2 separate regions of the Homo sapiens genome follow, and region 2 is linked to region 1. The links come from fine-mapping of genetic effects on gene expression. A gene starts in region 1. The other region holds a variant in brackets. All regions are shown on one strand. Distances are from middle to middle.

Region 1 (2,919 bases):
TTTCTTGGAGGCTTTTTCATTTCTTTTTATTCTTTTTCTGTAACCTTGTCTCCTTGCTTTATTTCACTAATTTGATCTTCAATCACTGATACCCTTTCTTCCGCTTGATCGAATTGGCTATTGAATCTTGTGCATCCGTCATGAAGTTCTTGTGCCATGGTTTTCAGCTCCATCAGGTCATTTAAGGTCTTCTCCACACTGTTTATTCTAGTTAGCCATTCATCTAATCTTTTTTCAAGGTTTTTAGCTTCCTTGCAATGGATTCAAACACCCTTCTTTAGCTCAGAGAAGTTTGTTATTACTGACCTTCTGAAACCTACTTCTGTCAACTCATCAAAGTTATTCTCCATCCAGCTTTGTTCCATTGCTGGTGAGGAGCTGCGATCCTTTGGAGGAGAAAAGGCATTCTGATTTTTAGAATTTTCAGCTTTTCTGCTCTGGTTTCTCCCCATCTTTGTGGTTATATCTACCTTTGGTCTTTGATGTTGGTGACCTACAGATGGGGTTTTGGTGTAGATGACCTTTTTGTTGATGTTGATGCTATTCCTTTCTTTTTGTTTTCCTTCTAACAGTCAGGTCCCTCAGCTGCAGGTCTGTTGGAGTTTGCTGGAGGTCCATTCCAGACCTTGTTTACCTGGGTATCACCAGCGGAGGCTGCAGAACCGCAAGTATTGCAGAAGAGCAAATATTGCTGAACAACAAATATTGCTGCCTGATCCTTTCTCTGGAAGCTTCGTCCCAGAGGGCAGCCGCCTATATGAGTTGTCTGTCCACCTCTACTGGGAGGTGTCTCCCAGATAGGCTACACGGGCATCAGGGACTCACTTGAGGAGGCAATCTGTCCTTTCTCAGAGCTCAAACGCGGTGCTGGGAGAACCACTGCTCTCTTCAGAGCTGTCAGACAGAGACGTTTAAGTCTGCAGAAGTTGTCTGCTGCCTTTTTTTGAGCTATGTCCTGCCCACAGAGATGGAGTCTAGAGGCAGTAGGCCTTGTTGAGCTGTGGTGGGCTCCACCCAGTTCGAGTTTCCTAGCTGCTTTGTTTACCTACTCAAGCCTCAGCAATGGCGGACACCCCTCCCTCAGCCAGGCTGCTGCCTCACAGTTCAATCTCAGACTGCTGTGCTAGGAGTGAGCAAGGCTCTGTGGGCGTGGGACCCACCGAGCCAGGCACGGGAATCACCTTGTCTACTGGTTGCTAAGTCCTTGGGAAAAGCACTATTTTGGTGGGAGTGTCCTGTTTTTCCAGGTAGTCTGTCACGGCTTACCTTAGCTAGGAAAGGGAAATCCCCCAATCTCTTACACTTCCTGGGTGAGGCGATGCCCCCGCCTGCTTCAGCTCGCCCTCCTTGGACTGCACCCACTGTCCAACCAGTCCCAGTGAGATGAACCAGGTACCTCAGTTGGAAATGCAGAAATCACCCGTCTTCTGCGTCGATCATGCTGGGAGTTGCAGACTGGAGCTGTTCCTATTTGGCCATCTTCCAGTTTCAATAGTTCTTTATTTTATTTATGCTATCTATTTCTTTTCCTTTTTTTTTTTTTTTTTTTTTTTTGAGATGAAGTCTTACTCTGTTGCCCAGGCTAGAGTGTAGTGGTGTGATCTCGGCTCACTGCAACCACTGCCTCCTGGGTTCAAGTGATTCTCCTGACTTAACCTCCTGAGTAGCTGGGACTACAAGAGCATGCCATCATGCCCAGCTAATTTTTGTATTTTTAGTAGAGATGGGGTTTCACCATATTGGCCAGAATGGTTTTGCATTCCTGACCTCAAGTGATCTGCCTGCCTCAGCCTCCCAAAATGTTGGGTTACAGGGGTGAGCCACCGTGCCTTGCTATTTATGCCATCTATTTCACTGAAGATTCCGCCTCTCATTTCTTGAGTCATTTTTTTTAAATTTCCTTAAATTGGACTTCACATTTTTCTGATGCCTCCTTGTTTAGCTTAATAACTGACCTTCTGAATTCTTTTTTAGGAAAATCAGGAATTTCTTCTTGGTTTGGAGCCATTGCTGGTGAGCTAGTGTAATTTTTTGGGGGGGATGTTAAAGAAAGTTGTTTTGTCATATTACCAGAATTGTTTTTCTGGTTCCTTCTCACTTGGGTAGGCTATGTCAGAGGGATGGTATAGGGCTCAAGGCTGCTATTCAGATTTTTTGACCCACGGGGTGTTCTCTTGCTGTAGTATTCTCCCCCTTTTCCTATGGATGTGGTTTCCAGAGAGCTGAGTGGTAGTGATTGTTATCTCTCTTCTGTATCTAGCCACCTAGCTGGTCTGCCAGGCTTCAGGCTGGCACTGAGGGTTGTCTGCACAGAGTCCTGTGATGTAAACCATCTGCAGGTCTCTCAGCCATGGATACCAGCACCTGCTCTGGTGGAGGTGGCAGCAGGGTGGAATGGACTCTGTGAAGGTCCTTAGTTTTGGTTGCTTAATGCACTATTTTTGTATTGGCCTCCTGCCAGGAGGTGGCACTTTGAAGAGAGCATCAGCTGTAGTAGCATAGGGGCATCAGGCAGTGGGCAGGGCCCTAGAATTCCCAAAAGTATATGCCCTTTGTCTTCAGCTGCCAGGGTGGGTAGGGAAGGACCATCAGGGGGGCAGGGCTAGGCATGTGTGAGTTCAGACTCTCCTTGGGTTGGTCTTGGTGGCAGCTGCTGTGGTGGATGGGGGTGTTGTTCCCAGGCCAATGGTGTTATATTCCCAGGAGGATTAGGGTTGCCTCTGCTGTGTCATGCAGGTTGTCAGGGGAGTGAGGGAAAGCTGGCAGTCACAGGCCTCACCCAGCTCTCATACAACCCAAAAGGCCAGTCTCACTCCCACCTTGCCCTCTCAAACAGCACCGAGTCTGTTTCCAAGCAGTGGGCAAGCAAGACTGAGAACTTGCCCCAGACTACCAGCCTCCTAGCTGTGAAAGCAAACG
Region 2 (2,919 bases), 53 kb before region 1:
AACGATTTGTTTATGCAGCTTGTGGTGACAGGCTCCTTGAATTAGTTTTCACAGCATGTAGAATGGTGCCACAGTGTTTTTCATAAAGCTGGGAAGTCCGAAAGGCCTGAATTCCTTATATTTAAAAGGGCTTATGAGTCATGTCAACATGGGCATGTTGTTCAACTTTAAGTTCTAATTTCTTTATCTGTAAAAAGAGAATGATAATAGAACTTCAGTAATTCATCATGTAAATAGAAAATGATTTATTGTCTGTGTAAAGTTATGAATAGCTTCTTTACACTCAAGATACAAGAGATGGTATGCTTCTTTATTTTCTAAATAAAGCCATCTCCAAATCATAACTTATCAGGGTCAATGATAAGCTCAATATCAGTGATTAATTGGGGTTATCCTCACTGGAATTTACAAAAACCCTGGGGCTTACATATTCCCAGGAAAAGGGGAAGGGCCTGGTTCTTGGTCCACAGGGATAGCCATTTACCCCTTGGCTCCACTTGGGTGCTGTGCACAGGGCCATTTTGTATACAACCTTCACAGACATGGATGGCAGCTCAGTCTTCCAAATGTTCAACAGTAGTTGAGCATGGTTTCTTTGCCATGCACTGGAGACGGCCTCCTTGGGTGAGCTGGCCCAAAACTTCCTCAAAATTCCTCTCTGCTGACTGCTTAGTCACAAATGTCTTAAAAAGATGCTCAAGACATAGCATTTAATGGCCAATTCTCATCTGTTCCAAACACCTGTTCCCATACAAGGACTTGTAACCTCCAGAATGCCAAGTCCAAGCACGTGAAGAAATTCACAATTCTCCCAATGTTTGCATCTGTGAAACCAACTGCAAGGTTGGGCCAATCTCCCAAAGCCTCTATTTTCATCTTCTTTGGGACAGTCCAGTTTAATTTCTTCATTGGCTGAGAGCTTTGAAATGAGCCCTATGAACTCTCACTCTGAGGACAAGGGAACTCTAGACCTCAAGGGCATAGAGCCCTGACCTCATTGTTTCACTGATGAGAAGAAAATAGGGGGAAAAAAATCAAGGTATCAATAAATTCTTCAGGAAGTCACACTGTTACACAGGCAGATCACATAGCACATAGAAACTGCTCACATTAGTTTGCTTTTTATCATTATTTAGAACACGGTACGTATTTATTGGTTATGCTCCACTGAATCTTCCACCTCTTGAGATGCCTTAAGTTGTGGAAGTAAGAGCCTGGCTTTTGGAGTCAGACAGCTCTGGTTCTGATTCCTGGCTTTGCCTCTTATCTCTTTGCACTTAGGTAAATTACCTTGCTGAGGTTCAGTTTTTCTTCTGTAAAATTAATTGTGAAGGTTAAATGCACTGAACACAGATAGCTGTAGCTTTATCTGCCAGGGCATACAAATAGTCACATATATAATAATAGTCCAAATCTCAAGGCTTGGAGCCCACACCTGCTTGACTGGGTCTTTTAGTAGAAGCCCCTCCTGTTAATTTATTCTGTCTGGGAGGTCCCATGGGTGAGGTTTGCCCACAATTTCCTTTATTCTCATGCCCTGTCTCATCCCCAGACTGCTGATCTCTTGCTTTTCTCCCTCTCTGACTGGTAGGAAAACTCCCTTAGAG[T/G]CTCATGATCAGAGACGTTTTTCACAGAAGAGTTAGGGCCCTAGAAACAGATGTAACTGACATCCTAGCCTTCTACTGTCATAACACATTGATGCTCAGGGGGAAGGGAGTAATATCAGGTAAGGTCAAGCTCCCTCCTACCATGGTCCACTGCTCCTCTGACATTCAGGCAGGCTACCAGTTCAGCCTGCTCTTCCAGACCTCCTCTCATAGGCTCTGAGGTCCCTTCGGGCCAGCCTTTTTCAGGGGATCCCAGTCCCCTAGACTGGTGTGTGGATGCCTTAACACAGTTGGTGGACCAGGATTGAGCTCTCTTCTACAGCTATCCTAAGACCATGCAAAACAAGGTATGTGTCTGAGCATCAGTTGTGGTGTTTCAAAACATTCTGTGATGGTCAAGAAGCTTTGGAACTTTGTATAACAGGAAGCTGTGCTATCCAGGATGTACAGAGGGTCTCATGCCATGCTCCAAACTTGATCTGGTCCAAAATATTCCTTAAAGCAACTAGTGCTTGCCACACAATAAGCTACTTATTTTGCCTTCTTTGCTTAAGAACAATTTGAAGTATTTGCTAGACAGTTGTCTCTAAATATTTTACCCTTATGCCTAACTGTTTTACAGTGATAAAATCTGAGACCCAAAGTTGTCTGGGTCATGTTATTATATAGAACATCTCAGGACTTGGGAGATTACTATCTGATATGGTTTTGCTGTGTCCCCACCCAAATCTTATCTTGAATTGTTGTTTCCATAATCCCTAGATATCATGGGAGGGACCTGGTGGAAAATAATTTAATCATGGGGGCCGTTAGCCTCATACTCTTTTCATGATAGTGAGTTCTCACGAGATCTGATAGCTTTATAAGCGACTTTCCCACTTTTGCTAGGCACTTCTTGTTGCTACCCTGTAAAGAAGGATGTGTTTGCTTCCCCTTCCCCCATGATTGTAAGTTTCCTGAAGCTTCCCCAGCCATGCTGAACTGTGAATCAATTAAATCTCTTTTCTTTATAAATTATCCAGTCTCAGGTATGACTTTATTAGCAACATGAGAATGGACTAATACAGTAAATTAGCACCACAGAGAGTGGGGTGCTGCTGTAAAGATACCCCAAAATGTGGAAGCGACTTTGGAACTGGGTAACAGGCAGAGGTTGGAACCATTTGGAGGGCTCAGAAGAAGACAGGAAAATTTGGAAAAGTTTGGAACTTCCTAGAGACTTGGAGGGCACAGAAGGCAGGAAGATGTGAGAAAGTTTGGAATTTCCTAGAAACTTGTTGAATAGTTTTGACCAAAGTGCTGATCATGATGT

Direction of the effects. Alleles are on the strand shown, and positions count from the first base shown. SD is a standard deviation of normalised expression in the study named.
For the expression in lymphoblastoid cells of the gene that starts at base 1,497 in region 1, G is the low allele of the variant in region 2 and T is the other (moderate effect, 0.70 SD a copy in GTEx).

What was found. PIP is the estimated chance that this variant, and not a neighbour inherited with it, causes the effect. A credible set is the group of variants that fine-mapping cannot tell apart.
Region 2: its variant is the best candidate, but not a certain one, in a credible set for the expression of HYAL4 in lymphoblastoid cells (GTEx, PIP 0.50).

The regions. Positions count from the first base shown.
Region 1 is chr7:123,843,673-123,846,591 of GRCh38, forward strand. HYAL4 (hyaluronidase 4) reads left to right here and starts at 1,497. Exons shown (of 5, transcript NM_012269.3): 1 at 1,497-2,013.
Region 2 is chr7:123,791,127-123,794,045 of GRCh38, forward strand. It overlaps a transcript of HYAL4 not described here. Among named protein-coding and RNA genes, the nearest start is that of WASL-DT, 43 kb to the left of the region's middle. The variant T/G (reference allele first, on the strand shown) is at 1,608.